2 linked regions of the Homo sapiens genome follow. The protein of the gene in region 2 purifies or fractionates together with the protein of the main gene of each other region. This does not show direct contact. Each region holds a gene or a part of one and is shown on either strand. Other genes may lie near its edges. The genes, in order: SESTD1 and IRAK2.

The links.
Region 1: the proteins of IRAK2 (region 2) and SESTD1 purify together in Homo sapiens (affinity purification with mass spectrometry; 3 studies listed by BioGRID and IntAct, with this or other methods). This does not show direct contact.

What each region holds. Positions count from the first base shown.
Region 1 is NC_000002.12:179,110,480-179,126,434, forward strand, and holds part of SESTD1 (SEC14 domain and spectrin repeat-containing protein 1), read right to left. Parts: intron 15,159-15,955; exon of another isoform or gene 15,057-15,158; intron 14,080-15,056; coding exon 13,885-14,079; intron 13,351-13,884; coding exon 13,236-13,350; intron 11,451-13,235; coding exon 11,291-11,450; intron 7,135-11,290; coding exon 7,053-7,134; intron 6,312-7,052; coding exon 6,189-6,311; intron 4,778-6,188; coding exon 4,586-4,777; intron 2,367-4,585; coding exon 2,245-2,366; intron 1-2,244. UniProt on the Homo sapiens protein: May act as the primary docking protein directing membrane turnover and assembly of the transient receptor potential channels TRPC4 and TRPC5.
Region 2 is NC_000003.12:10,155,208-10,171,343, reverse strand, and holds the start of IRAK2 (interleukin-1 receptor-associated kinase-like 2), read right to left. Parts: upstream 6,426-16,136; 5' UTR 6,390-6,425; coding exon 6,296-6,389; intron 1-6,295. UniProt on the Homo sapiens protein: Binds to the IL-1 type I receptor following IL-1 engagement, triggering intracellular signaling cascades leading to transcriptional up-regulation and mRNA stabilization.

The sequences.
Region 1 (15,955 bases), on a different chromosome or scaffold from region 2:
ATTCTACTCTCAAAGATACTGTATTCAGAATCACAGAATATTTTTAGAGCTGGAAGATTTCTTAGAAATTATCAGGTTAATCTCTTTATTTTTCAGATCAGAAAAGTGGAGCCTAGCAAGTTAAATGATGTAAGCAAGGTCACCCAGGGAAAAACCAGAATTTGAACCTAGGTCTTTGAGCAGTGAATCCAGAGAGACCATCAATCTCTTTTATTTTACCAGGAGAAGGTATAAAAGAGAAATCTGTCTAACCTGTCAAACAAACTATACATGGCATAAACAGATTACCATTATATTAATAATTATGGAAAACACTACACACAACTTTGGGAAATATTTAATTCAGCAAAATACCTAAAAGAGATATACATAAGTTTTAATATGAATATAAAGTGGAATAAAACAGCAATTCCAAAATATTAAAGGTGGGTGTGAACTTTGAATATATAGTACTAACATTCTTTTATCTTAAAAGGATGGATGAGGAAATGACACATGGACTATCTGTGAAACACAGACGAGAAGCTGAAGCAAGCATACCAGGGAGAGGTGTTCCTAGGCTGACATGGGTAGAACAGGAGACTGACTGTGTGACAACTGGCTGTGAAATGTAGGAATCAGGGAGGGTAAGGGATCCTGGAATGGAACAACCAGAAGCACGCCTGTAATTCTGCTACTAGCTGAATTTTGTTGTCTTTTATTGCAGATGTGTAATACAACTTTAGGTGACTTTAGGCTACCTCTGATTGTTCAAGTTTAGGTGGGGCTTGAGATAACGTAAGTATAGACTATGAATAATATTATTTCAAGGGAATAAAATGCCATCTTTTCAATATCAATCCCAAATAATCACTGGAAGATCATGGCACAGTAGTAGCAGTGCTTATTATGTGTCAGATCTGTTTTAAGTACTTTATACTTATTTAGCTCAGGTAATTCCCACACCCCCATAACCTGAGGAAGGTATGAGTGTTACATGGCAGTTTTTAGATGAGGGAATTGAGGCACAAAGGTTAAGTGGCTTGCCCAAGGTGTTACAGTGAGTAAGTGGTAGAGCTGAGACCTCTGGCTCCAGAGTGCACAGACTCATCACACTATACCACAACGTTAAAGGTACTTGTATTTTTATTTACTGGTTTGGTTACTCTATCATTTGAATTAAATATCCTCTGGATTATCTCTAAATTATTTTCAGTAAGAATCAGGTCTAAATCACCAGGGATGAAGCTCCTCCTGATTCTTTTTTTTTTTTTTTTTTGAGACGGAGTCTTGCTCTGTCACCCAGGCTGGAGCGCAGTGGCGTGATCTCGGCTCACTGCAAGCTCCGCCTCCCAGGTTCATGCCATTTTCCTGCCTCAGCCTCCCGAGTAGCTGGGACTACAGGCACCCGCCACCACGCCCAGCTAATTTTTTGTCTTTTTAGTAGAGATGGGTTTTCACCGTGTTAGCCAGGATGGTCTCCATCTCCTGACCTTGTGATCCGCCCGCTTTGGCCTCCCAAACTGCTGGGATTACAGGCGTGAGCCACCACGCCCGGCTGAAGCTCTTCCTGATTCTTTTCCTGATCCATTTATTTTGCATCAGATTATTTCATATTTTTATCACTATTTGAAATGGAAAGGTGTAAGATAATCAGGACCCCATTCCTTCACACATAAAGAAATTAGAACGCCATATAACACAGTACAAAGGGAATGGGTTTGGAGCCACACAGACATACCTGAGATTGTAAGTTTATGCTAACTCTTAGAAGCTGTGAAATCCTGAGAGCCTTACTTAATCTCTGTGGGCCTCAGTTTCTTCATTTGTAAATCAGGAATAATCATACTGGTTTGGTCCTCTTTGGTCAAAAGTAATGAAGGTGAAATGTTTCACTTGGTACTTGGCATATATTGTGAACTCACTAAACATCAATCCCTTGTCCCCTCTTCCTTTTCCTGAATGAAGCCCCAAGTCACACTATTCCCCACCATCATAGCCAAGGCTAGAACCCAGTGTCTTAATCTAGTCAATGATCATTCTACAACAAGCTGTCAAGAAGTAACGCATCTGTTGTTGGCAAGTACCATTACTGTGGCTAAGAGGTGTGGATTTCTTTTCATTTTAAACTAATTCATCGTAGGAGTTAAAGATGTGGACCAAACCTAATTTACTTGGCTTTTTAAAGAATAGATTTCCTCTTTTAATGATTTCACTTTAAGACCACACCAATAAAAAATAAAATTATAAGAACATGCCCCATACCCATCAGGATAAACTACTGGAACAGTTAATCTATCCAAAAGTGATTTCCCAACTGCTTCAATTTCATCAAATTGCTCCTCATCATTAATAGCTTCAGGCTCTTCTGGACAGTCCTGCAAAATCTGCAACAAATAAAAGAGCAACATCAATCAAGAGACACAGACAGGTCTGCAGTTTCAGAGGATCACCCCACCCCACAAAAAAAAAGAGAGAAAAGAAAGACACAGAAATGGAATCAAGCTCATACAAATTTGGTAGATTAAAGGCATTTTCTTGTTCTTAGCATCTTCAGGTATACCACTATATAAGATTGATCTATTATTGGCAAAATTCTTCAAGAAATTCAAACAAACAAAATGAAATACATAATTCCTACTAACAATATGGTGATTTCCAAGAAAGAAAATAACTAGACTACTATTTGGAAAATAAGTTCAATCTGTCCTTAAGAAGTATTCTTTCATTTATATTAAGTAACCATTTATTGAACAGTTTATGTTTATGTAGCAGTCTGGAAGGTGAAGGAGGTATAGACTGTGTTCTCAAAGAGCATATAGACATTACAAATGAAAAATTATATAAATAAAAAACAACAAAGAGTACAAATAAATAACTGATGTGACAACTCAGCTAGATGATAATATTTAACAACTGATCTGCTGGCTTGAGTTAACTGCCATAAAATGATTAGGTTATAATTCAAATATGGTAATCTCTATAGTCCTTGATGAGATACTGTTCTTCACTCCACCCTAACCATTACCATTTAAATTAAACCACAAGAACTGCAAAATTTGAGAGAGAGAATAAAAAGTATTCATTTTTACAACTTTTTTTTGCATTACACTTTATCTAATCATGTTTACTTCAGCATTACTCATGAACGGACATTTTTGTATTTTAAAACTCAAGATTTAATTTAGATATTTTTCTAATCATTATACTATACAATTTGCTTATAGTTGTGGTTATTTATATTTATGCTTATGGTATAAAATAGAATACAGTCAAGAGGAAAGTAATATCTGATAACAAAGGGCTTTACTTAGGTTTGTACAACAAGCTCCAGGAGGTGGAGCCTGCAGTGAGCTGAGATCATGCCACTGCACTCCAGCCTGGGCAACAGAGTGAGACTCTGTCTCAAAAAAAAAAAAAAAAGTTATCAGTGGTGCTAGACATTGGGCCAATTGTCACCCTTTGACAGTGAGGTGATTGGGGGAGCAGTACTGTGATTACACAGGGTGGGGGGAGCTTCTGGGTGCTGGTAATGTTCTGTTTTTTTTGAACAGTACACTGAGTACACAGGTGTGTTCACTTTATGAAATCTCACTGCACAGAATACTTGTGGTATGTTTTCTATGTTAATAGTATACTTCATAATAATAAAAAATTCTCATTGAAACAATCAGTAGATAAACAAGTTACACTATTTTGTATACTTCCACTTATCATCATTAGGCCCATGTTAATCAAACACTGATCTACGGAGTTCAATGACCAGCTGAGAATGAGTTAACTATGGACCCTTCCCAACAGATGTACTTCATAACTCAGATAGAAACTTTAATTCCTGAGGTTCCTTGCAACATCTGTTCCATGGATCAAGTTAGGTTTGCTAATATCTCAAAGTGTATCGAACATTCCCTACATATAAACTTTTATTGTAAGAGATCAAAACAAAATTAACTACATAATAAAGTTCCTTTTCAGAATGGATATGTAAGGCTTGGGTAGAATAAATTCTTACTATGAAGAGTAAGAAAAAAGTTCTATTGAAAATGTGTCCAAATAACCCTGCATATTTTATTTTTTGTTTCTGAAATTAATGACCTTAATTCATTGAATAATAAATTCTAGAATGAATCTTTAAAGAACACATATAAAAAAGCATTTTACTTTTGTCCTTATTCTTATTTTTTTAATGTCCCGACTTTATAAAATCACAAGGTGCCTTTTAAAAAATGTGTGACAATTAATAGCAGTTGCCAAAGCAAAAAGTTTCCCTTCCAGGCATAACGAAAGAGATTGAACTCATGATACTCTAAAGAACAGAGGGCATATTCTGGACACCAGGCTTGGTGAGGAGAGAAGTGTAAAGAGAAGAAGACTACCAGGTGGTTCTGGATTTCTCCAATCATGGCTCTCCAGCACTGGTAAGGATTAAGGAAATTTAATTTGAACTCTCTAAGGCAATGTATTATATCTAAACAAACCGTAACAACGGAACTAATATAAATATTGAAAAATAGATTAGTCATATAGTTACATTACTAAAATTAACATATTTTAAACACATATAATCAATACCACTGAGAATAACATTTCAAAAACACAAGCAAACCTTTTCAGCATTTGAGTGAAATGCAATAGCCATTTCCAATCTATGTACTCTCTCTTCAGATGCTATTGTAAATTGTTTCCATACTCTGTTCAGTCGAGGAAGTGTATCCCCAGATGACCGAGAAGTGCAGCGCAAAGATTGGCATAACACAACTGTGGCCTGTAGCAACTGCCTGCCATAGTCATAAGTGCTCTAAAAAAGAAAAGGAAACATAAAATTGTAATAAAAGAATTCTTAAGAGAAGGATGGGGAAAGTGTGCAGGAAGATTGTCGTTACAGTTAAGTGACACTACTAGAAATCAATACTGAATAAATCTAGTGGCACTTATTACTACAAATCATCTGTGTGTATAAGTAATAAAGGGGAAGCTATGTTTTTGTTAGTTTATAATAAGTTTCATGGCCAGGCACAGTGATTCATGCCTGTAATCCCAGCACTTTGGGAGGCTGAGGTGGGTGGATTGCTTGAAGTTAGGAGTTCAAGACCAGCCTGGCCAACATAGCAAGATCCTATCTCTAAAAAAATGAAAAAAATTAGTTGAGTTTGGCCACACTTGCCTGTAGTCCTAGCTACCTTGGAGGCTGAGGCAGGAGGATCACTTCAGCCCAGGAGTTTGAGGATGCAGTGCGCTATGATTGTGCTGAAACATCATATCCTAATTGACAGAGCAAGGCCTTGTCTCAAAAAAACAAAAATTGTTTTAAAATTTTTAATTAGAAAAAAGTCTCCTTCTGTTAGGCTTCCCCACTTTATTCTGTTTCCCCCATCGCAGTCTGCTTAAATTTCACTGGCCAGAAAGAATGTCTGCTTATGAATTAATCAAAACTACTTTCAAAAGTAGGTGAAATTAGGCACTTTATATTCCATATAGGAAACTACATCTGTTAAAACGTGAACTCATTATTAGGGAAAATAAGATACTTTTTGGCTTGGCGCGGTGGCTCACTCCTGTAATCCCAGCACTTTGGGAGGCCGAGGCGGGTGGATCGCTTGAGGTCAGGAGTTTAAGACCAGCCTGGCCAACATGGTGAAACCCCATCTCTACTAAAAAGACAAAAACTAGCCAGGCGTGGTGGCCGGTGCCTGTAATCCCAGCTACGCAGGTGGCTGAGGCATGAGAATCGCCTGAACCTGGGAGGCAGAGGTTGCAGTGAGCTGAGATTGCATCATTGCAGTCCAGCCTGGGCAACAGAGGAAGACTGTGTCTTAAAAAAAAAAAAAAAGACACTTTTCACCACAAAAAAGTTCTGTATTATTATGCTAACACTAGTGTGATGCAGAAAGTGAGGTTTCTTATTTACTGATATTAACATCCATTTCATATTAACTTCTGTGGATGAACAGTTGGATTGCCTTAAAAATGCCGTAATACATAGCATAAATCAGAGGGACCATGCAGAACATGTATTCAGGGAAACGTAAACCCTCTCAAGTTTATGCAGGCTAGTTTTGATGCACCAGCTGACATTTTCTTAATTCTGTGACACTTCTGGAATAACAAAACTAACCTTCTTGTACTTGGAAGGTAAAGTTACATTATAATCATGCAGAAAGCTATTCAAACACTGAGCTTGTGGAAAAGGAAGATAACCAGTTTTGCACCTGTGCAACATCAACAAATTTTCTATGCTTTTCCAGCAAAACTTTCGTTTCTTGAGCATCATCGCCCAATCTGATGTGAGTCTTAAGCAGAGCATCCAGAAGTTCACTTAGCCATTCTACTGCCTAAACAAAAAGACATAACAATGAAGCTGGATTCAGAACTCTTTACTTATTGTATCAAAATGTCATTTATACAGAGATTACTATCATGTGATTAATAAATCCGTTAATTATAACCTAAAGTCTTAAAAGCTTATTTCATTCAATGATAAGCTACATGAATTAATGACCTGTCCTACTCCTCAAAATTCTTTAAATCTGAAGGCAAGACATACTGAAGAAAAGCATTCTTTTAAAATTAATATCACATAATAAAAGATCATGTATTTCTGTATGTAGATCCATCAGGATTGCATTACAGATTTGTGTTACTACATAAAATCAAAAATTTTATCTATATCTAACTGAAATGATGTTCTCTGATGATAACGACAAAATATATCAAATTGTTTATCTGGTATTGAAATTTCTCTTGCAGATGCAAGAGAGCAAAATGCAGTGTGCTCCACCAGATTTTATCCTGGATGTAACTGACAACCTAATCAACAATAATAAATAATAAACGATCCCAATCTCTAGCTCAATAGAGGATTATAGAGGATTTCATTGAGAAAATTAAGTTAAATGAGATCAATCAACTAGCTGGGAATACCAAAGTGTATTCTTCAACAAGATAGATAAACTAGAACCTGACTTCAAGAATTTACTTTTTTAGGACCATGAAAAGTACACTTTTGTTTGTAGTTAGATAAAATCAATCTTCTAAGAAAAGTTAACTACATAATGTAGCTGACTGCTCCTTACCTGGGCAGCATCTTCTTCACATTTAAACAACTGCACCATCTGAAGCATCTTTAACCTTCGCACATCTACCATGTCTTCACATCTAATGAACCCAAACATAAATTTAACTCATCATTTCTGTTTTATTGATTACTATTGTAACATCATCATTTGGTACATGTATTTTATAGTACACTAAAATACTTAGTCCTAAACAATGGAGAATGCAAGTATTTTGTATTGATTTGTAAGAATTTTAGGGATATTTATATCAATGTTACATCAAAACATCAAAATACCCAAATGATACTCAATGACAAACCCTCTTAAAGATAGCATGGATTCTGCAAAATATTAAAGCAAAATGTAAGGACAATAGTACACTAAAACCCAAAAAAAATCTCCATTGCTGTTTAGCATCAAACAAGTTTCAAGGATAAAAGTGTAATGTTTCTCAAATACAGGATGATATTTTTTTGAGACAAGGTCTCACTCAAGCACCTAGGCTGGAGTGCAGTGGTACCATCATAGCTCACTATAACCTCAAACTCCTGGGCTTAAATGATCTTCACATCCCAGCCTCCCAAGTAGCTAAGACTACAGGTGTGCATCACTATGCCCAGCTAAAGAAACATTTAAACATTAACGCTTTTCATTATATTATAGTACCTAAAATAATATTTAATTCTGATTTTTTTTAAAACCCTCCATCTACATTCTTAAAAACTAGATGGAGGGCTTAAAAAAACAAAAAAACTCTACTGACCTCTGGGTGTAGAGAAACACAATTCAAATTATTTTTTTAATCTCATTGTGGTCTTTTTGGATAATATAACCATTTAAATTTTTAAGGCAACTTAACCTAACTTAACTCTGGTCCATTTCCTTCATTTCCATGAAATTCTGCGTACTGCAGGTGGGATGGGGGACTCCCACTGCAGTCTCAAATACCGATAATATGTTACCAGACACTGTGCTCTACTATACTTGATGTCCTTAAAGAAAGCTTAATAACAATATAGAAGTAGGTATCACAAGGCTTTTTTTTAAAAAAAAATAAAGATGCTCTGAATAAAAGCTATAACATGACATTAAAATTCAACTTGGTTAAAGTAATTCTACAATGGACTGAAGGGAAGTGATAATTATTTTTTAAATATGAAACTAAAAAACAATGTAGGCCACTTTGATGAAGATGGTATCATACATATACTGTATTCAGGTATTAGATAATGTGTGCTGGGGAAAATATAAGATATGGTCTCTACTATCAAGATGCTCCCATTTGCAGAGATGTTATAAGTACTATTATAAAGCTATTTAAAATGTTTTATGAGAGTAGGGAGGAGCAAGTGACTAACTTGCCTTAGAAGTCCAAAAAGGCTTCCTAAAGTAAAGTAAGTATCCCTGAGTCTTGAAGAGTAAGTAGGAATTCACTGAGCAGAAAACAAGGAAACAAGTATTCTTAGTCATGGATGCATGAAACAGCATGATGCTTTCAGGGAGATAAAAACAACTGTGTGATTTTATGGGAATGTTATAGAAGATAAAATTATGCAAGAATTGGATTATGAAGGGTCTCCTACATTATTCCAAGAAGACAAACTCCATCTGAGCAAACAGGAAGTCACTGAAGGAAGTTTTACACAATTGTTGTACTTTATGAAAATTACACTTATATACAAAAAGCTGGAGAGTAGCCAGGCCAGAGGCAGATAAGAGTTTAAGATCTTGACCATAAATGTTTGAGATTCAGAGACAGCAGAACCTGGACATTTGATTAAGCTATAAGGGATGAGAAAGATGAAGGATTTTAGGATAAATCTCAAGTTTGGTAGCTGATGGTAACTTTAACCTAGGCAGGAAATTAAAAAAGGAGAGCAAGTTTTAGAGGAAAATGATTCCAGTCTGGACATACTAGGTGATCTGGTTTGGATCTGGGTTTTGGATTTGTGTCCCCACTTAAATCTAACATCAAAGTGTAATCCCAATATTGGAGGAGGAGCCTGGTGGGATGTGATTAGATGCCTCCCCTTCCACCACGATTCTGTTTCCTGAGGCCTCTCCAGCCCTGCAAAGCTGTGAGTCAATTAAACTTCTTTCCTTTATAAATTATCCTGTCTTAGGTATAGCAGCGTGAGAATGGACTAATAAATACAAGGGGCCTGGTGGGAGATGACTGGATCATGGGGGCACATATCCCCCTTGCTGTTTTCATGTCAGTAAGTGAGTTCTCATGAGATCTGGTTGTTTAAAAGTGTGCCGCACCTCCCCCTTCACTCTTTTCCTCTTTCTCCATCCAAGTAAGATGTGTCTGTTTCCCCTTCACCTTCCATCATGAGTGGAAGTTTCCTGAGGTTTCCCCAGCCATACTTCCTGTACAGCCTGTGGGACTGTGAGCCCATTAAGCCTCTTTTCTTTAAAAATTACCCAGTCTCGGCCGGGTGCGGTGGCTCACGCCTGTGATCCCAGCACCTTGGGAAGCCAAAGTGGGCGGATCACGAGGTCAGGAGTTTGAAACCAGCCTGGCTGACATGGTGAAACACCGTCTCTACTAAAAATACAAAAATTAGCCGGGTGCAGTGGCACCCGCCTATAGTCCCAGCTACTCGGAAGGCTGAGGCAGAAGAATCGCTTGAACCCAGGAGGTGGATGTTGCAGTGAGCCTTGATCATACCACTGCACTCCAGCCTAGTGACAGAGCGAGACTCTGTTTCAAAAAAAAAAGAAAAGAAAAGAAAAATTACCCAGTCTCAGGTAGTTTTTTATAGCAATGCAAGAATGGACTAATACACTAGATTTCAGCAGTACATGGGGCATCCCGCAGGCGACACTAAGTAGGCAATTGGAATTATGGGTCTACAGCACGGGAGAGCTGTAACTACTAAACCATGATCTATTAAAGAAAGTAATTCAAGTAGTGAGAATGTCCAGGGAGAATATATAAAGAAGGGAATCTGGCCTCAGAACAAACCCTGGAAGCAGTAACTTTAGCTAGTGGCCAAGAAATCAGTGACAAAAACCAAGAAGAAACAGAGAAGGATCATAAATGTGTTTTCAAGAAAGATGAAATCGAAAAGTCAGTTGTGCCTAACGCTAATCACAGTTAAGCAAGTCAAGACTAAAAGTATTCTCTGAACTTTAAGTAAGATACAGCATTTATTACGTTGGTAATGCTGGTAAGAGCAACACTGAATGAAATAGTTAGGGTAGAAGTCAGACTGAAAAGAGTTGAAAATAAATTGGAGGTAGTGGGGGAAGTAGTATGAATGTACCGTAAACCTATCCAAATGACTTAGCTGTGAGGAAGAGTTCTAATGCTAAAAGACAAAGAGTTGAAGAGGAAGACGTACCCATATGTGTGATTATTATTTTTAAAACAGGAGAAATTTAAGCATTTAAGTGAGGGCAGGAACCAGAGTAGAGAATGGGATTTGATGGAGTTAGGAGTCAGGAGGGTGATCAGAATCAGAGCCTAAATGGAAGCTCAGCTTTGATATTTTTTGATATAAACGGAGAGCTCTATCATCCTCTGTGGTGACAGAATAAAAGTAAGTTTGCAGATATGAGGGAAGAAATTTCTGCCTCATGACTGTTTTCTCTGTGATGCAGAAGGAAGCTTTCTGTGAAGTTTTGTTGATGATCATAAAATTTTTAAGTGTGCAAAATTTCATATAACCATGCTAGATTGTGTATATTGCATAATTTTAATCCTTTACTTTGCAATACTTTGTAGTTGCTATTGCAAACTGAGTTTTCAAAGAATCTTTTGAATTCCTAGTTTTATAGAAAATGAAACTAAACATCACTAGTCCACTGTTTAATCCTCCTACAGCAAATATGAGAACAATGAATGTGTGACATTCTGTAAGTTTAGATGAAGAAACAGATCAATGTAGATGACAAGTTTAATGGCAACTCTAAACTAAATGAAATTTAAAAAGCAAAATTATTCTTCAGTAAGTTTTTTTTAAAGCAGAAGAGTCATAGACTACACTGGGGATATGGAATTTGAAATAGTTGAGTATAATTGAAATTTTTACAACCCAATAAAAAGGAAAATGGTACCTAATAATTGAATAAATTATTACTATGTTAGTAAAATTATATACAGTAATTATCACATTCACCAAAAACCTACTACATGTCTTCTATATAACAGTTAAGAACGTTTTGTCTGTATATAAAATGTTATATAACTTCATTTTAACTAATATTGTTATTATTTTAGTAAAAAGTAATTAACGGTCAAACTTTGCCTTTGTTTTCTAAGCTGCATATCTTCCATCACTCCTTGTATGTGGTCCACATTTTCTTTATTTTCAATGGTTACATCCTTTCCATAGGCCCAGGATGCCTGATTGGAGATCTGATCCAGGAGACCTTGACCTTTTTCACGCAAACCTTGCAATCCCACATCTAAAACAAAAGTTACTAGATTTAATCTCTTACACAACTAAGGCGCTTTCCCTCCCTCAAACAAATCGTCTCATCAGATATTGTACCTGGATCCCAAGTATAGGAGCTTTGTACAGTAAACCACCTTGGGATGGAATCCCAAGACTCCATCCTATGAACATTTCAAGCAATAAAACCCTTTAAATGTAACTCGAATTGGAGCTCTCTCTCATGCCAAATTCTCCCTAAAGGGAATTTTGAAAACATGGGTTTCCATAGACAATAATTACTTTTAAAAAATGAAAGCAGAAGAAAAATATGAAAATTCCTATTTCTAATAGAAAACAATTTTCTGTTTTTTCTTCCTGCTTTTATGCTGTCCAACTTATAGGAGAACAAGGCAAACATGTTGTTTAAAAAAGCGCATAAGCCTTGCAAAATTTTAAGACACTCCAGCAATGTATCATCAATGTCAAAGGATGTTGAACATTGTGACTAAAGATACAGTCTAGCTTCTATACCATAGGAAGCAACAATTAGGGTATATTTACAATTCTCCAAATTACATGTGTAAAGGAACTTTTTTTTTTTAAACAAAGACTGTGGCTCAAGAAAACTAATATTTTAAAAGAAAATTCATTTGTCATATTAAACACTAAATATGTATTATGCATACCATCTGTTAAAATAACAGAGGCTGGCCAGGTGCGCTGGCTCATGCCTGTAATCCCAGCACTTTGGGAGGCTGAGGTGGGCAGATCACCAGAGGTCAGGAGCTCGAGACCAGCCTGGCCAACATGGCAAAACCCCATGTCTACTATAACTACCAATACAAAAATTAGCCGGGCGTGGTGGCAGGTGCCTGTAATCCCAGCTACTTAGGAAGCTGAGGCAGGAGAATCACTTGAATCGGGGAGGCAGAGGTTGCAGTGAGCCAAGATGGCACCACTGCACTCCAGCCTGGGCAACACAGCAAGACTCCATCTCAAAAAAATAAAATAACAAAGGCTGTAAGCAAGTAAAATGTCAGTACAAGTGTGATTTTTCAAACCAATTCCCTAAGGCAGTTTTCAATAATTTGGTTTAGTCATGTGCAACCACTTTTTACTAGTTCTCTGCCTTAAGTTCCTGTTTCCTCTCTTCCATTGCCATTTCCCCTTTTGTCCCCCCTTGATACGACTCCCCACCTTCCCATTGTCACATCCTGACCTTTTAGGAAAGTTCACTGTGCTTCCTGCTGTAGAAAAATTCTAAAGGCCTTGATGTCAAATGACATCAAGCCTACATCAGCTTAATGTAACTGGACCCCTTAATGTAAATGTACCCCACTCCTTGGAGAATGGGTAATCTGACAATATTCCCAGTTTGGTGAGACAAGAACCAAAAAACCAAACCAACTATTTTTTCACAAGGTTAGGATAAAGCAACAACAAAAATCATTGCATAAAACACAATTTTGGGCATACAGGATTTACCACAGAACATTTCACAGCTAATTACAGTTCATGCATGCACTACAAATAATTGTTCATAGTATATGCAAGACACAGCACCTGTAGATATAGCTGGGTAAACAGGCAAGGGTAAAGGCCCAGTGAAGGGAGGAGTGACTAACTAACGATGAAAAATAAAATTTTCAGCATAAATTATAACCCCTCAAGGGAATAAAATCTTTTTATACTATTTTTCTGTTTCCTGAAAATAATACTAATTAGTTCAGTGTAAGTTGACTTAATTGTCTAACCATGGTAATGATATTTAAAAAAAAAAAAACCTTATGTTTCAGCATTTTTAAAATCTGCTTACCAACACTTTTCAGCTTCTCTTCAAGCAGTTTTAAAGTTTGCTGAATCGATGCTCCATCAGCTGGTGCTACATCTACGCACAACATCCCTAATAAGCCATCCAACTGCTGAGACAACTAAAGCAGAGGGACACCAAAGAGATAACCCTGATGTAATCAGCATCTAAAGTGTTTAATGATTAATGAGGTTTATATCTAATGAGGTTATCACAATTACACTTGAAAAGACTACACTGTTACAAGACAAGGACGAATCATTAGAATATGCATTATCTGGAAGACAGAACACACAGATGCATGCACCAGGAAGACAAAGAAGTACATTCAGGTCAGCAGAATGCAAAAAAGTATTGAGACTTCCATTTCCATCTAAGTTATAAAGCATAAACATTGAGAAGGAGTCAAAATAAAATATTCTACTAGATTGGAACACTCTAGTTAGACAATAAAAGGTTGAATTGCATGCAGAATGACTTAAAAAATACTTGTTTTTAAAAAAAATCAAAGAATTTTATCTCATTACCCCCACCAGTAATTCATTTTATTGGTTCAGAAAAATAATTTAGGAGGCATGCAAACCTGAAAAAAATTACGTGTAGGTAAGTGTTCAGATAATTTGAAGAAAAGAAAAGAATCAGAATAGACACTTACATCTTGGGCAACACCATGAAATTCAAGAGCTGCTTGTAAGAGATTTTGCCTAAATTCCAGCTGACTGGCCTGTCGATAACAAACATCACTAAGTTGTTGCTGCAGTGACTTTAGTTCCACAAGATCTTCCTCATCGCCAGCATTCAAGAGTGCTGCAATTTGCTGATTAAGTTCCACATACACTGCAAACCATTCCTGTAATCAAGATGTTACAAAGTAAACTAAGGCTCAAATTAGTTCCTGGAAGAGATTACATTTTATAATTTCTCCAGATAAACTAAGTAATACATGATTTTTTTTTTCTAAGGCAAAATTATTAAAATTGAGGGTGGAAAGTTCCTAATCCTGTGATCCCTGGAACTCAATCCCTGACCTCTAAATGTTCTCTTCTCTTCCTTGCTCTAAGTGAAACCTGTCCGCCCTCAGTCACCCCTGCAGCCTTCTCAACTGATTACTGTTTCCATGTCTGACATACTGCAAGCCTGAAGGTGGGTTTGGGTGCCTCGTTCCTCACTACTTGCAGACCATTTATTTTCCCTCTTCTTTCAAAAAACCGTATCCCCTTTGAAGTGCATGCTGTTAGATTACATCTTTTCAGCTTTCTGTGTGGTATCACCTCATCCACAGAAGGGTTTAGCAAAGGTCACACTGCCTTCCTCTCAGCATCAGCCTTCTTAGTGACTTCCACTACATAGGCACCCACCACCATCCTGAACCTCCAGTTCCTTGACTCCCTCCCTCACCTCCAACTAACTTGTCCTCACCTCAACTCAGCTACCTCTTCCACTGGCCATAAAAACGTGTCATCATATACTACTATGTAGCTCCAAAAATCTGTTTCATGAAACCCATTTTCTGACCACCTATTGACTCTCCCATTCACCTCTGTTTGTAGGCTCACACCTACAATCCCATGGAATCCACCAATCTACTGACCTCTCTACCATCCAGCACATGAGAACCTCTGTCCTCACTTCCATCCTTGATCAAAGGCTATAACCACCTCCCAGCATATAACCCATGCCCCTGCCTGGCTTTCTTTCCTTCCATCAGAATGACCTGTTGAAACCTGAGATCTGTTTTCTCTGCCTAATGTGTGCCTGTACCAGAGTAGCCGAACATGGGTAGACTAAAAACAACTAGGTGGATAGCGCTCTCTCTCTTTTCCCTCACATCAGAAGGGTAACGTGCTGATGTTGTTACAAGGCTTAGAGGGAGACACATCTCAGATGAGTGTGAGCACCCATCATCATGCTTATAAACTACAAAAGGATTGACAGATCTCTTTTTAAAGTTATGACTAAATAATCTCAAATGAGTCTTTGGCAATCCTTTTATGTTTCTCTAGTAAATTCACTTTCTCATTCTCATGATCATTTATGTTTTTTTCACTATCAGTCTCCAATTCCCTTTTCACTTCTTCATTCTCAGCCAAAGATCTTAATTCACTGGGAAGTAATCGGAAAACTCTTTCATCTTCCCACCAACAAATCCCCAACCCTCCGTTCTTCTACAGCCCTATGCTCTGCCCTCAGAGCTGTAATAATCAGCCGCCTGTCTCTTCTTCTAAGGCCAACCACTCCACTTGTGCATTACAGCCTATCTCTGTTGCCTACACAAAGCTTTGCTCTCACAGTTATCTTCTCTGTCTCCCATCAGTTCTTCTGTCTCAACTGGATTATTTCCACCAGCATATAAATAAGCTGTAATTTATTAAACAATAAAATACACATTTAAGATTTGTGCATTTTACTACGCTGAAATTAAACCTCAGTTAAAAAAAATTTTTTTCTTAAAGGAGTTCTCTGTATTTACTCTTTTCTCATTTTTCATTCTTTTTTTAATCCATTCCAATCAGGATTTTGTTTTCCCACCCTTCTGAAACCAATTGTCAAATTCACCAAAAAATTCCATCTTGCCACAAATCCAATGGTCAATTCTCAGTCTTTATTTTATTGAACCTCTCAACAAACAGCTGCATTTGGCACAAGTAAGCACTTCCTCCTCCTTCAAATGGCCTTTTCTCTTGTTTTCTGAGACACAACAGCTCCTTTTAGCCTTCTTTGCTGGC
Region 2 (16,136 bases):
GGATGAGGAAACTAAAGGCTCAGAGAGAGATAGTCACCTGCCTGATGTCACACAGCTGGGCAGGGCAAAGCAGGGCTGTGCACAAAGGCTGGCACACGCATGAGTGAACGAGACGGGGAACGGCCACACACAGAAGAGCCCCTGCGCCGAGCCCCTCTGCACACACCTGGGGCTGAAGCTGTAGGAAACCCTTTTTACACAGGCTCAGGCAAAGCCCAACAGAGGCAGCTGCCATCACGGAGACAAGAACTAGGCGTGGCCAGATTATCTGCCAACAAGTGTCGGATCTGAAAGAGCGTGGCTGTCTGTGGCTGCGGGATCTTCTGAATCACTTTAGCGTTCTCACTACACTCTCCCAGTATCACCATCAGCTCTGAGGGACTGTCTTCTTTCTAAAATGACCCACAGGAAGCCAAGAATTTTTAGGACTGAAGGGTCAATCACAGTCACTCGTTCATTCAGCTGAAGAGGGAACTGGAGCACTGGGACTGGGCGAGGAGCAGTGGGCCGGAGGCACCGCTGGCTCTGATCCAGTGTAGGAAGTGGGCTGACCAAAGGCTCCAGGCCAGCTCCAATGGGTAAGAGTGGGCAGCCCGCATCCTCACCACACCAAGGCCTGGCAGCTCATCATTCATTCTGGCACCTGCCCTCTAGCCAGGCACTGTCCCAGGCTCTGGGAATACAGCAGTGAAAAACTAGACAGGTAAGGCCCCTGCCCGCACGGGGCTTCCATTCCATAGGGAGAGACAGGTGGAAAAAATTCAGGAACGAGGGGACATCAAAGGCTGTGAAGCGGAATGAGGGAAATGAAACACGGTGATGGGCTAGAGAGGAACAGGGGCAGGAAAGTCCTCTTGATTTCAAAGAGGTGCCACAGGAGCTTACCTGAAGGACTGTGACAGACAGAATAATACCCTTGGAAAACATCCACATCCTAAGCCCCGAGACCTGTGAATATGGTACCTTACATAGCAAAAGGGACTTTGCAGGTTAGATTAAATCAAGGATTCTGAGATGAGATTATCCTGGATTCTCTGGGTCTGGCCAAGGTAATTACCAGGGTCCCTGTAAGGGGGAGGCCAGAACATCAGATTCAGAGATGAGGTGATGGTAGAAGCAGAAGTCACAGAGACAGATGTGATGATACACACCCATGGCCTTGATGATGGAGGAAGGGGCCATAAGCCACAGGATGCTGCAGGCCTCAGGAAGCCAGTCAAGGCCAGGAGACCGACTCCTCCCTAGAGCCACCCTGAGTTAGGACTTCTGACCTCCAGAATGCTGAGATAATAAACTTGAGGTGTTACAGGCCACCAACTTTGTAGTGTTGTGGGAAGTCAGGGGCCCCGAACAGGACCGGCTGAAGCCACGGCAGAAGAATACAACTTGTGAAGATTTCATGGACATTTATCAGTTCCCAAAATTAATACTTTTATAATTTCTTACGTCTGTCTTTACTGCAATCTCTGAACATAAATTGTGAAGATTTTATGGACATTTATACTCTTATAATTTCCTATGCCTGTCTTTAATCTCTTAATCCCATCATTTTCATAAGCTGAGGATGTATGTCACCTCAGGACCCTGTGATGATTGCATTAACTGTATAAATTGTTTGTAAAACGTGTGTTTGAAAAATATGAAATCTGATTGTAAAACGTGGGTGTTTAAACAATATGAAATCAGGGCACCCTGAAAAAGAACAGAATAACAGTGATGTTCAGGGAACAAGGGAAGATAACCATAAGGTCTGACTGCCTGTGGGGTCGGGCAGAATAGAGCCATATTTTTCTTCTCACAGAGAGCCTATAGATGGACGTGTGAGTAGGAGAAATATCGCTGAATTCTTTTCCCAGCAAGGAATATTAATAATTGATAACCCTGGGGAAGGAACGCATTCCCGGGGTAGGTCTATAAATGGCCACTCTGGGGGTGTCTGTCTGATGCAGTTGAGATAAGGGATGAAATATGCCCTGGTCTCCTGCAGTGCCCTCAGGCTTACTAGGATTGGGAAATTCCAGCCTGGTGAATTCTAGTCAGACGGGTTGTCTGCTCTCCAACCCTGTTTCCTGTTAAGATGTTTATCAAGACAATGCGTGCCCAGTGGGACATGGACCTTCACCAGTAATTCTAATTTCACCTTTGCCTTGTGATCTTTTATTGCCCTTTGAAGAATGTGATCTCTGGGACCTACTCCCTATTCGTACACCCCTCCCCTTTTGAAATCCCTAATAAAAACTCGCTGGTTTTGTGGCTCGGGGTCACCATCACGGTCCTACCAATGTGTAACAGCACCCCCAGAGGCCTAGATGTAAAATTTCTCTCTTTGTACTCTTTATTTCTCAGACCGGCCGACACTTAGGGAAAATAGAAAAGAACCTACATTGAAATACTGCGGGCTGGTTCCCCTGATATTGTAGTAATCTATAACTGCAACAGGAGGAAACTAATAGACTAGAAAGCTAGCCCCAGGTAACACAGGGGGAAGAACGTCCCAGGCAGAGGGAACAGCACCTGCAAAGACCCTGTGTCTGGCCCAGGGAGGTCAGTGTGGCTGGAGCAGGGGAGTGACAGTGGGTGTGGAAGAAGAGGAGGTCAGAGAGGCCAGCACTGGGCAGATGTGTCAGAGTCAACATGCCTGGCAAGGTGTTCAGATCATATCCATCCCAGTGGGGAGCCTCGCAGAGGTATTCTCCAAAGAAGATGTGCAAATGGCCAACAAGCACAGGAAAAGATGCTCCACAGCATTAGTCATTAGGGAAATGCAAATCAAACCACAGTAAGATGCCACTTCACACTGGCTCAGGTGGCTACCATCAAAAAAGCAACAATAAGGCCGGACATGGTGCTCACACCTGTAATCCCAGCACTTTGGGAGGCCGAGGCGGGCAGATCACCTGAGGTTAGGAGTTTGAGACCAGCCTGGCCAACACGGTGAAACCCTGTCTCTACTGAAGATACAAAAATTAGTCAGGCACGGTGGTGCATGCCTGTAATCCCAGCTACTTGGGAGGCTGAGGCACAAGAATCGCTTGAACCCAGGAGGCTAAGGTTGCAGCGAGCCGAGATCATGCCACTGCACTCCAGCCTCAGCGACAGAGCGAGACTCTGTCTCAAAAAAAAAAAAATTAAAAAAAGAAAAAAATAACACATGTTGACAAGGATGTGGAGAAATGGTCATCCTCATACACTGGTGGTTCAGCCACTTTAGAAAACATCTGGTAGCTCCTCAAATAGTTAAACATAAAGCCAGATGCAGTGGCTCACACCTGTAATCCCAGCAATTTGGGAAGGTGAGATGGGCAGATCGCTTGAGCTCCAGAGTTCAAGATCAGCCTGAGTAACATGGTGAAACCTGTCTCTACAAAAAATACAAAAGTTAGCTGGGTGCAGCAGTGCACACCTGTAGTCCAGCTACTCAGGAGACAGGAAGATCGCTTGAGCCCAGGAAGTTGGGGCTGCGGTGAGCTACATTTGCACCACTGCACAAAATCTTGTATGTGAGTGTTCACAGCAGCACTATTCACAATGGCCCAAAAGTGAAAAGAACCCAATGCCCAACAACTGATAAATGAATGAAATGTAGTATATCCATACCATGGAACATTATCCTACAATAAAAAGAAACTGGCTGGGCGCGGTGGCTCACGCCTGTAATCCCAGCACTTTGGGAAGCCGAGGTAGGTGGATTACACGGTCAGGAGATCAAGACCATCCTGGCTAACACAGTGAAACCCCATCTCTACTAAAAATACAAAAAAATTAGCCGGGCATGGTGGCAGGCACCTGTAGTCCAAGCTGCTAGGGAGGCTGAAGCAGGAGAATGGCATGAACCCAGGAGGTGGAGCTTGCAGTGAGCCGAGATTGCGCCACTGCACTCCAGCCTGGGTGACAAAGCGAGACTCCGTCTCAAAAAAAAAAAAAAGAAACTAAGTATTGACGCATGCTACAACATGGATGAACCTCATGTTAGTTGAAACAAGTCAGTCACAGAGCACTATATATTATATGATTCCATTTATATGAAATGTCCAAAATAGGCAATGTCTAAAACTCAGGAAAATGGAAGGAGGGGATTGGAAGTTAACGGGTACAGAGTTTCTTCTTCGGGTGATTAAAATGTTCTAAGATTGATTGTGAAGATGGATACACAGCCCTGTGAATATACTAAATACCACTAAATTGTACTCCTGAAACAGGTGGATTGTATGGTATGTGAATATCTCAGTAAAGCTTTATTTTTTTTTTAAGTCATAGGTATGCCTTCTAATTGAATTTCCTAGAAACAGAAGTTGTTCTGGCATTTGTAACTGAGGGCTGGGCCAATGTGGAAAAAATGAGAGGGAGTCTCACACAAAGTTTGTTCACTGCCCAGGAAACATTCAAAGTAGTGAAGCCAGGTCCAGGAGCAGTGGCTCACGCCTGTAATCCCAGCACTTTGGGAGGCCAAAGCGGCCAAATCACATGAGGTCAGGAGTTCGAGACCAGCCTGGCCAACATGGCGAAACCCCATCTCTACTAAAAACATAAAAATTAGTGGGCGTGGTGGCACATGCCTGTAATCCCAGCTACTCGGGAGGCTGAGGCAAGAGAATCACTTGAATCCAAGAGGCGGAAGCTGCAGTGAGCCGAGATCTCGCCACTGCATTCCAGCCTGGGCCACAGAATGAGACTGTCTCAAAAAAATAAAAATGAAAAGAGAATATTACAACTTATGACTTATAAGAATATTTAACACTTAGGTGTCAGTGCTTTTATACAGTATTTTCATTCCTCACAACTTTATGAAGAAGCTATAATTATCATCTCCAGTTTACATACAGATTCAGAAGCTGAGGCTCAGAGAGGTTAACAAACTGGCCCAAAGTCATACAGCAAGAGCCTGGAATGCAGATCTCCACCTGGAAAGCAGAGACAACAGGCAAGCGGCCTCCCCGCAGAGTCCATGGCCCTCTCCGCCAGTCATCCGTCAGGCACCAACAAACAAAACATATGGAGGCTGTCTGAGTGCCTTCCCACGGAATTATCTAGAACTGTGCACCTTGCAATAGAGTGAAAGTAAGTGCTTGTGCTTAGGCCCCATTATACACACTGAATCTATTAGGACACATCTGATCTCAAAACAGGTTGATAGTCATAAATACTGTGATCAAAACAATGTACACTAAAAGTAAATATCTGATTTTAAAACTATAATGGTAAAGTACATTTAATCACAAATATGATAAATAGGCTGGGCACAGTGGCTCACGCCTGTAATCCCAGCACTTTGGGAGGCCGAAGCAGGTGGATCGCCTGAGATCAAGAGTTCCGGAGGCCGGGCGCGGTGGCTCATGCCTGTAATCCCAGCACTTTGGGAGGCCCAGGGTGGGCGGATCACAAGGTCAGGAGATCCAGACCATCCTGGCTAACACGGTGAAACCCCGTCTCTACTAAGAATACAAAGTTAGCCGGGCGTGGTGGCGGGCGCCTGTAGTCCCAGCTACTCAGAAGGCTGAGGCAGGAGAATGGCGTGAACCCGGGAGGCGGAGCTTGCAACGAGCCTAGATCGCGCCACTGCACTCCAGCCTGGGCGACAGAGTGAGACTCCGTCTTAAAAAAAAAAAAAAAAAAAAAAAAAAATAGTTCAAGACCAGTCTGGCCAACATGGTGAAACCCGGTCTCTACTGAAAATACAAAAAATTAGCCAGGGTGGTAGCGGGCGCCTGTAATCCCAGCTACTCGGGAGGCCGAGGCAGGAAAATCGCTTGAATCCCAGAGGTGGAGGTTGCAGTGAGCCGAGACCGTGCCATTGCACTCCAGCCTGGGCAACAACAGCGAAACTCCGTTTCAATATATATATATATGTTAAATCATAGATCCTTCTAATATACACTAAAACTAAACACACCACACACACACACACACACACCCCCCCAAGAAGTGACAGCACCGTGGGTCCCTACAGGGTCGAGGCTCGCACTTTGCAGGCTGTTGTGGGCTGGATGAGAGGCCACCTGGGGACGTCACCGAGCCAGCAGCGCTGACAGGAGGGCCCCCGTACCCACCGTTCTCTGGACTCAGAGCGCAGTGGCGGCGGCCCCTGCTCGTCGACAGACGTCCTCAGAGACCACGCGGCACCTTCAGGTGACAGGCCGAGGTCCGCGGCGGACCCGGTCCAGGAGGCTCAGCTCGCACGCCCTCGGATCGGGACCCGCTGAACCCGGGTGCCCGAGGGAGCTTGGCGGCCGCTCCAGGCGGGATCGCTGGGGGCTCCGGTCGCCCTGGTCCCCTCCCCTCCCCGGGCCGCACTCACCGAACTCCATCCAGTCCCACTCGCTGAGCGCGTCCATGTTGCGGCACAGGTCGTCCAGCACCCAGGAGGGCAGCTGGTAGATGTAGCAGGCCATGGCACGCTACGGGGCCGGCTCCGGCGCGGGACGACTGGGTCGGACACTGCGGGCTGCGGCTTCTCTAGCCAGGGGCGGACCGGCGGGGAAGTGGGCGGGGCGGGAGGGCACCAGCGTCCCCAGCGGCCACGGGCGGCACGACGGCCCCGCCGGCTCCACCCCAGCGCCGGCCAGAGAATCGGAACTGCGAGGGGAAACTGAGGCCCTGGTGGGAGAAGGCCACACGGGAATTCTGCCGCAGCGGCAGGAGGCCTTCTGACCCCACTTCCATCGGCACTACACCATGCATCATGCGCTCATCAAATACTCCATTAATTACCTACTGTATGCCAGGCAACTCCCTAGGTGTTGGTAATACCTGAATAAGAAACCCTACAGCCGGGCGCGGTGGATCACTCCTGTAATCCCAGTACTTTGGGAGGCCGAGGCGGACGGATCACGAGGTCAGGAGTTCGAGACTAGCCTGGCCAATATGGTGAAACCCCGTCACTACTAAAAATACAAAAATTAGCCGGGCACGGTGGCGCACGCCTGTAGTCCCAGCTACCTGGGAGGCTGAGGCAGAAGAATCGCTTGAACCCTGGAGGCGGAGGTTGCAGTAAGCCCAGATTGTGCCCTTGTACTCCAGCCTGGGTGAAGAGTGAGGCTCTGTCTCAAAAAAAAAAAAAAAAAAAAAAAAAAGCCTACAAAAGCCCTTGCTTTCATAAGACTTACAATCTAGGTGTGGAGAGAAAGACTAACAATAAATAATAAATATAGTATGTTACAGAGTGTCTTAAAGGTAATAAGCACTATTGCAAAAAAAAAAAAAAAGGAAAAAAAGTTGGTTAAAGGGAATCAGGAATTCAGATTGAGCATGGGGAATATTCTATTAAATAGGGTAGTCAGGTAGACTTTACTATAGTAGCTAATATGTATCGTGCAGCTACTATGTGCCAGGCACTGTTGTAGGTGCTGGGAATACCTCTGAAGAGAAGGACAAAATCCTTGTCCTGGAGGGAGACAGACAACAAGCAATAAAAATAGGCAGATAAGCTATGTTGGAGAATGAAAGTAGAAGCCTGGGCAACATAGGAAGATCTTATCTCTACAAAAAACTTTTTTTTTTTGAGACGGAGTCTTGCTCTGTAGCCCAGGCTGGAGTGCAGTGGCGCAATCTTGGCTCACTGCAGCCTCTGCCTCCCAGGTCCCGGTTCAAGCAATTCTCCTGCCTCAGTCTCCCGAGTAGCTGGGATTACAGGCACGCGCCACCACGCCCAGCTAATTTTTGTATTTTTAGTAGAGACAGGGTTTCACTGTGTTGGCCAGGATGGTCTTGAACTCCTGACCTCGTGATCCGCCTGCCTCGGCCTCCCAAAGTGCTAGGATTACAGGCATGAGCCACCACGCCTGGCCTCTACAAAAAATTTTAAAATGAGCCAAGCATGGTAGTGTACACCTATAGTCCCAGCTACTCAGGAGGCTAAGGTGGTAGGATCTCTTGAACCCAGGAGTTTGAGGCTGCAGTGAGCTATGACTGCACTGCAGCCTGAGTGACAGAATGAGACCCTGTCTCTGAAAAAAAAAAAAAAAAAAAGAAAGAAAAGAAAGAATAAAAGTAGAGGGTGGTAAAAGGGAGTGCAAGTGGCCAATTGCATTATCTTAGATGATACTATTACTGGGAAAAAAGCAGAGTATGGTGCAGGGGACTGCAGGACAAACTGGATTATTAAATAGGGTATAAGGGGCTGGGTGCGGCGGCTCCCACCTATAACCCCAGCACTTTGGGAGGCAGAGGCAGGCAGATCGCTTGAGCCCAGGAATTCGAGACCAGCCTGGGAAACAGAGCAAGACCCTGTCTCTACAAAAATTAGCCAGGCATGGTGGCATGTGCCTGTAGTCCCAGGTACTTGGGAGGCTAAGGTAGGGGGATCACTTGAGCCCAGGAGGTGGAGATTGCAGTGAGCCAAGATTGCACCACTGCACTCCAGCCTGGGTGAGAGTGAGACCCTGTCTCTAAATAAACAAAGAGGGTACAAGGAACAGAATTTATAGTGTGTGTATACATATATATATATATATATATATATATATATATATATAAAATACACACACACATATATAAAATAGCTAGTATTTATTGAGCACTTACTATGTGTAGCCTTCACCTGGGTTACTTTACTTACTCCTTACAATGACCCTCTGAGGTAGGTATGGTTATAGCCCCATTCTACAAATAAGGAAACTAAGGCACAGAGAGGTTAAATAATATGGCTAAAATCATTTGAACCTAAGTATTCTGACCCCAGGCTCTCCATCACCACTGGCTAAAGTATATTGTAGATACAGATACATTTATCTGTATCTACAATGTACTTTGCAAAAATGATCTTATGTCATTCTTACAAGCCTATACTATAGATATTATTATCCCCATTTTACACAGAAGTAAATAGATTCCAAGAGGTTAGGCGAGGTCACGAAGGGCAGATAAGTAACTAGAGTAGGTACCACTGTATAGCTGTGGCCGTCAGCTATGGAGTAGCGCTGCAAAAGGAGGAAGCTGAAATCAAAGTGAGAAGTCCTAGGGCCAAGTTGCAGTTCTGCCACCAACAGGCTTTGTGACTCTGGACAACTCATTTCATTCGTCAAGCCTTGTTTCCAGCATCTGTAAAGTGGGCCTGCTCCTTCCTACTGCTTAGAGTTGTGAGGGGAGTGGAATAAATCAAATTATGTAGCCTATATAGAACACCTACTACAGGGCTTTCCTCGCACAGAGAATGTGCCCAAAAAATGGTAGCTGTCATTAGTGGTCTTGAAAAGGCACCCACTGGCCTTGGAGTCCTATCAAGTTTGGAGACCTGGTTCAGCCACTCTCCGGCTCTTAGTCCTTTGAGCCAGTTCTGTTTTCCCTTTTGGAAACTGGATCTCCTGCTGCAGCCACTTGGAAGGATTGTTATGAAGCCTAAATGGACTCCAAAACGCTCAAGATCAACTGTGAAGTGCTGAGCCCAGTAAAGGATTACTATTATGTCCTCCTTGATGTTGAAAGTGGGACATATTTCAGTGTTCTGAGACTACTTTTCAAGTGAAGTCCTGTGTTTTCAGCAGTGGCTGAAGGTGGACTTGGGAACTGTAATGATTGTTTGCCATAGGCTGGGTGGAGAAGCATCTCCATCCCAGGCACACGGGGGTAAAAGAGAATAAAGATCCTCTTCTTTTTCTCCTTTTCTCTTTTTGCAGAGTCCCCTACCTGCTTCTCCTTCTCTTCCGCAAGCAGCGTGTGTGTAGAGCTCCTCCCTCAGTGCCACAGGGCCTCTTCCCTGGGGTGAGGCTTTAAGACCACGGAAGTTTCACATTCAGCCTTGGTCAATCCTGGAAGGCAGAGGAGCCCCCACTGCTCTCTCTGCTGCATCCTCAGGCCCTTCCCGCAATTCCTTCTCACCCCAGCCTCAGGGCTTGGGATCTGTGTCCTAGGATTCTGTCTTCCAGAGAAGCTTGAGTCATTTTGGGCCTGAGCAGGTCATCACAGGGACACATCTCAGTTACCACTCTTTAGAATAAGTTCTTCAAAGTAAGGTCTTTGCTATTACTAATGGTTGCCCTTCACCTACCAACTCACCTAGCAGGCATTTAGCATACATTATCTGTAATCCATACAACCCTGCAAAGGTTTATTGTTTCTGTTTTACAGATGAAGAAACTGAGGCTGAAGTCAATTGTAACTGGGCCAAGTTGGCCAAGTGACAGTGAGGTAGGGGGCAGCACTCGACTCGAAAGGAATGGCTGGGACATCGGACCAAATTGAGGACTAGCTAAAACAGGTGTGGTGGGAAGTACCTCGCATAAGACACTGCCACCAGTGTACCTTGTCAGTTTACCATTGCCATGGCGACTCCAAGAAGTCACCGCCCCTTTCTAGAATGTTCTGCATAAACTGCCCCTTAATTTGCATATAATTAAAAGTGTGTATAAATGTGACTGTAGAACTGCCTCTGAGCCACTACTCTGGGCACACTGCCTATGGAGTAGCCCTACCCTGCAAGGAGCAGTACCTCTGCTGCGGCTGCACACTGCTATTTCAATAAAAGGTGCTATTTAACACCACTGGCTGGCCCTGGAATTCCTTTCTGGGTGAAGCTAAGAACCCTCCCAGGCTAAACCCCAATTTGGGGGCTTGCCTGTCCCGCATCAACAGGATGCAACTCAAGTCTGACCCAAAGCAAATGCTCTTTCTGCTGTGTTATACTGCCTCACCACAAGAAATTTCCTCTGATCTTGCAGTTAATTTCTTCCTCTGGCTATTTTCCATGACCAACACCCACCAGGATCAGTTAGAAACAGTTATTGAGGCTGAATGTAATTAATTACACACTTACGTCATTTTGAGCTGTTCAAGTTTAATTCCCTTGAAATTATAGTCAGTGGTTTGCAACCCTGGCTGCACAGTAGAAACATCTGGGGTGCTTTTAAAAAGTATAAATGCCTAGCCCTACCTCCAGGGAGACAGATTCAATTATTCTGGAGTGGGGCTCAGGCACTACTGTTTTTTAAAGCTTCCCAGATAATTCTAATATGTGCTGGCACAGTTGAGAACCAGTCATATCAGAAAGCTGGGGCAGAGGCCAAGCATGGTGGCTCATGCCTGCAATCCCAGCACTTTGGGAGACCGAGGTGGGTGGATCACTTGAGGTCAGGAGTTCGAGACCAGCCCAACCAACACGGCGGAACCCCGTTTCTACTAAAAATACAAAAAAATTCGCTGGGCGTGATGGCACGCACCTGTAATCCCAGCTACTTGGGAGGCTGAGGCAGGAGAATCATTTGAACCCGGGAGGTGGAGACTGCACTGAGCCAAGATCATACCACTGCACTCCAGACTGGGGGACACAGTGAGACTCCATATCAAAAAAAAAAAAAAAAAAAAAAAAAAAGCTGGAGCAGGAGGGAAGACTGATGAAAGGAGAATAATAAAGCTTCTCTATGCACTTTGCATATATTTTTCTTTTTTTTTCTCTCTTTTTGAGACGGAGTTTTGCTCTTGTTGCCCAGGCTGGAGTGCACTGGTGTGATCTTGGCTAACCGCAACCCCTGCCTCCTGGGTTCAAGCAATTCTCCTGCCTCAGCCTCCTGAGTAGCTGGGGTTACAGGCATGTGCCACCACACCCAGCTAATTTTGTATTTTGAGTAGATACGAGGTTTCTCCATGTTGGTCAGGCTGGTCTCAAACTCCTGACCTCAGGTGATCCACCCACCTCGGCCTCCCAAAGTGCTGGGATTACAGGCATGAGCCACCGCGCCCGGCTATATTTTTTTTTAACAAAAATATCTTTATTGGTTTCTCTGATAGCATGTGATATTTGTCAAAGACAGAAAGAAAGAGAAAACAAACACCTTCCCATAACCTCATCCCTGAGGAATCACCATTATTGTTTGGAGTATATACTCCTTTTACATGTTTTTAGTCCTATACAAAATGATTTTTTTTTTTTTTTGAGAAGGAGTCTCACTCTGTCACCAGGCTGGAGTGCAGTGGCGAAATCTCGGCTCACTGCAACCTCCGCCTACCGGGTTCAAGTGATTCTCCTGCCTTAGCCTCCCAGGTAGCTGGGACTACAGGCGCATGCCACCACACCTGGCTAGTTTTTTGTATTTTTAGTAGAGACGGGGTTTCACCACGTTGGCCAGGATGGTCTTGATCTCTTGACCTCGTGATCTGCCCACCTCGGACTTCCGAAGTGCTGAGATTACAGGCGTGAACCACCGTGACTGGCCAATTTTTTAAACATATTTTCTTTTTTGCAGACACTATGGTGAAAAAAAAATTTTTTTAACATTTAATTTTCTGTTTTTTTTTCAATTAATAGCTTTTCCTGTCATTATATGAGCATAGTACTATTTCCCTTTTAATGGCTTATTTAGGAACACCATACTATATGTGCCCAAACTCCTATCAGTATACTTTTATTTCCAGTATTATGCTATTCTAAATAATACTGCAGCAAACTTCATATACATACATCTATTCACACTTGTTTTTTCTTTCTTAAGGTAAATTCCTAAAACTAGATTTTCTGGAGCAAAGATGAACATCTAAAATTGTGATGGGCTGGGTGCCATGGCTCATTCCTGTAATCCAAACACTTTGGAAGGCCAAGGAGAGAGGACTGCCTGAGCCCAGGAGCCCAGCCTGGACAACATAGTGAGACCCCATCTCTGTTAAAAAATGGCTGCGTGTAGTGGCTCACACCTGTAATCCCAGCATTTTGGGAGGCCGAGGCAGGCGAATCACCTGAGATCAGGAGTTCAAGACCAGCCTGACCAACATGGAGAAATCCTATCTCTACTAAAAATACAAAATTAGCTGGGCGTGGTGGCGCATGCCTGTAATCCCAGCTACTCGGGAGGCTGAGGTAGGAGAATCACTTGAACCCAGAGGCGGAGGTTGCAGTGAGCCAAGATCCTGCCATTGTACTCCAGCTTGGGCGACAAGAGCAACACTCTGTCTCAAAAAAAAAGAAAAGGAGGCCGGGCGCGGTGGCTCACGCCTGTAATCCCAGCACTTTGGGAGGCAGAGGCGGGCGGATCACGAGGTCAGGAGATCGAGACCATCCTGGCTAACACGATGAAACCCCGTCTCTACTAAAAAATACAAAAAAATTAGCCGGGCGTGGTGGCGGGCGCCTGTAGTCCCAGCTACTCGGGAGGCTGAAGCAGGAGAATGGCGTGAATCCAGGAGGTGGGGCTTGCAGTGAGCCCAGATAGCGCCACTGCACTCCAGCCTGGGTGACAAAGTGAGACGCTGTCTCAAAAAAAAAAAAAAAAAGAAAGAAAGAAAGAAAAAAAAAAAGAAAAAAGGCAAAAAAAAGCACAAACAAAAAAACAGAAACAAACAAAAAAAATTTTAAGAAAAACAAACATAAGGCCAGGTGTGGTGGTGCATGCCTATCTATAATCTCAGCACTTTGGGAGGCCAAGGCGGGAGGACTGCCTGAGCCCAGGTGTTCAAGAGCAGCCTGGGCAACATGACAAGACCCTGTCTCTATTATAATTTAAAAAATAAAAATTTCAGCCAGGTGTGGTGGCTCATGCCTGTAATCCCAGCACTTTGTGAGGCCAAGGCGAGCAGATCACTTGAAGTCAGGAGTTCGAGACCAGCCGGCCAACATGGTGAAACCCTGTCTCTACGAAAAATATTAAAAATTAGACAGGCATGGTGGCGTGCACCTGTAATCCCAGCTACTCAGGAGGCTGAGGCAGGAGAATTGCTTGAACCCAGGAGGTGGAGGTTGCAGTGAGCTAACGCCACTGCACTCCAGCCTCAGCAACACAATGAGATTCTCTCTCAAGAAAAAAATTAAAAAAAAAAAAAAGTGGCTACTCTTTCTCTCTCAGAAAGATGAGTAAACCTCTATCCTATCCTATTCTTTTTACCTTTTTTTTTTTTTTTTTTTTGGTAGAGACGGAGGTCTCACTATGTTGCCAAGGCTGGTCTCAAACTCTCCTCCAGTGATTCTCTAGCCTCAGCCTCCCAAAGCGCTGATATTGCAGGTGTGAGCCACAGCGCCTGGCCCCCTATCCTTTTTAATGGCTTATTTAGGAGTGCCATACTTAATTTGGGCAATCTCCCATACATGTACATTTATTTCCAATACTGGAGTCTGTTCCAGAGGGATCTGCTTTCTGCATCTATCAGGGGGGTGGAAATCCTGGAGGCTGCCAAGTATAAACGAGTATTTGGAAAACAGCTGCCCCAGAGGCACACTAGACCTTCTCAAAATCCTCCCTACTGCTTGGAGTTGCTCCACGCCAGGGTAATCCAGACCTGCTGGAACAGCCCTGATACGGTTTGGCTGTGTCCCCCCCAGATCTCATCTTGAATTGTAATCCCCATATATCATGGGAGGGTTTAATCAAATCATGGGAGGTAATTTTCCCCAGGCTGTTCTCATGATGGTGACAGAGTTTTCTTTTTTTTTTTTTTTTTTGAGACGGAGTCTTACTCTATCGCCCAGGCTGGAGTGCAGTGGCACAACCTTGGCTCACTGCAAGCTCCGCCTCCCAGGTTCAAATAATTCTCTGCCTCAGTCTCCCGAGTAGCTGGGATTACAGGCACCCGCCACCACGCCTGGCTAATTTTTGTATTTTTAGTAGAGACAGGGTTTCACCACCTTGGCCAGGCTGGTCGTGAACTCCTGACCTTGTGATCCACCCACCTCGGCCTCCCAAAGTGCTGGGACTACAGGCGTGAGCCACCACGTCTGGCCAATGGTGACAGAGTTTTCATGAGATCTAATGGTTTTATAAGCATCTGCCATTTCCCCTGCTGGCATTCATTCTCTCTCCTGCTGCCCTGTGAAGAGGTGCCTTCCACCATGATTGTTAAGTTTCCTGAGGCCTCCCCAGCTGTGAGCAACTGTGTCAATTAAACCTCTTTTCTTTATTAATTACACAGTCTTGGGTATTCCTTCATAACAGCATGAGAACAGACTAATACGAGCCCTTACCACAGTTCCTATCAGAGGTTTCTGAGCATGGAATAGCTACAACAAGAGTTCTCAAAATTCTTGGGTTGGGCCTAGGTAATGAACACCCTCCTACAAGGGAAGATCCATCAACTCATGTCACTCCCCATCAAGCAAATTGCTAAACTGTCCTTTGCCCAATTAAGTCTCCTCCAACTTATGTTAAGATGAAATGGTTCAACAGGACTTCCCCCAAGCCTTTCAGTAACCTCAGCTCTGTTATCAGCATCTGTGGGGCCAGCTCCAGGCCCCCAGGATTCAACTTTTCCCAATTGGAACGAAACAATCTTTCGTGTTTTTCCTTCTGACAGACAGGGAGAGAGATTACTGCCATTAGTTTGTATGTCAAACAGACTTATATTTTCCTGCGGTTTCATGTTTTGAATTTTGAAATAAGTTTTGTGGGTTTTTCTCCCTCTCATACATTGAGTGCTACTGCCCAATCCTTCTCATGACCATAATACGTGTACCTCAATTTTCTGTGACCTGCCAATGGACTACTGGGTATGTGTGGTAAGGGGTGGGGACAAGAAAATGTTTTGTTGGGGCAGGCAGTTTAGGTGTGCCGAAAGAAAGGGGAACAAGTTGAATGTCCCTCATTGGAAATGCTTGGGACCAGAGGTGTTTCCAATTTCAGATTTTTTTGTATTTTGGAATATGTGCATATATATGAGGTATCTTGAGGATGGGACCCAAGTCTAAAGGCGAAATTCATTTACCTTTCTGTTTCAGAAAAACTGTTTTTCCTCTAGATTCCACACTAACACAATACCAACCCAGAACACTTTCGTGTCCAAATGTGTAGATTTCTTCCCGAGAGCGAGCAAGCAATCAATTCTGCAGTGAACACCAATTAGGTATCCTCTAATTCACTTCCAACACCATCTTTCTGGAAATAATATCAGATCCTGCAGGTTGAGGCCTCAGTCCCCAAGACTGCCCCCACCCACACACCAGTAGCAAGTTTAGGGCTCCAGAACTTCTGACCAACCAGCTTCAAGTTGGGGTTCCCACCACCTTCGCTTTGGGTTTAATTTGCTGGAGTGGCTAACAGAACTCAGTGAAAAATGTTTACCAGTCTTTTTTTTTTGAGACAGCAGGTCTTGCTCTGTCTCCCAGGCTGGAGTGCAAACTGAACAGCTGGGACTGCAAGCATGCGCCACCACTCCTGGTTGTTCTTTTTTTTTCTAGGAGAGACAGGATCTCACTATGATGTTATCTTGAACTCCCAGGCTGAAGCAAT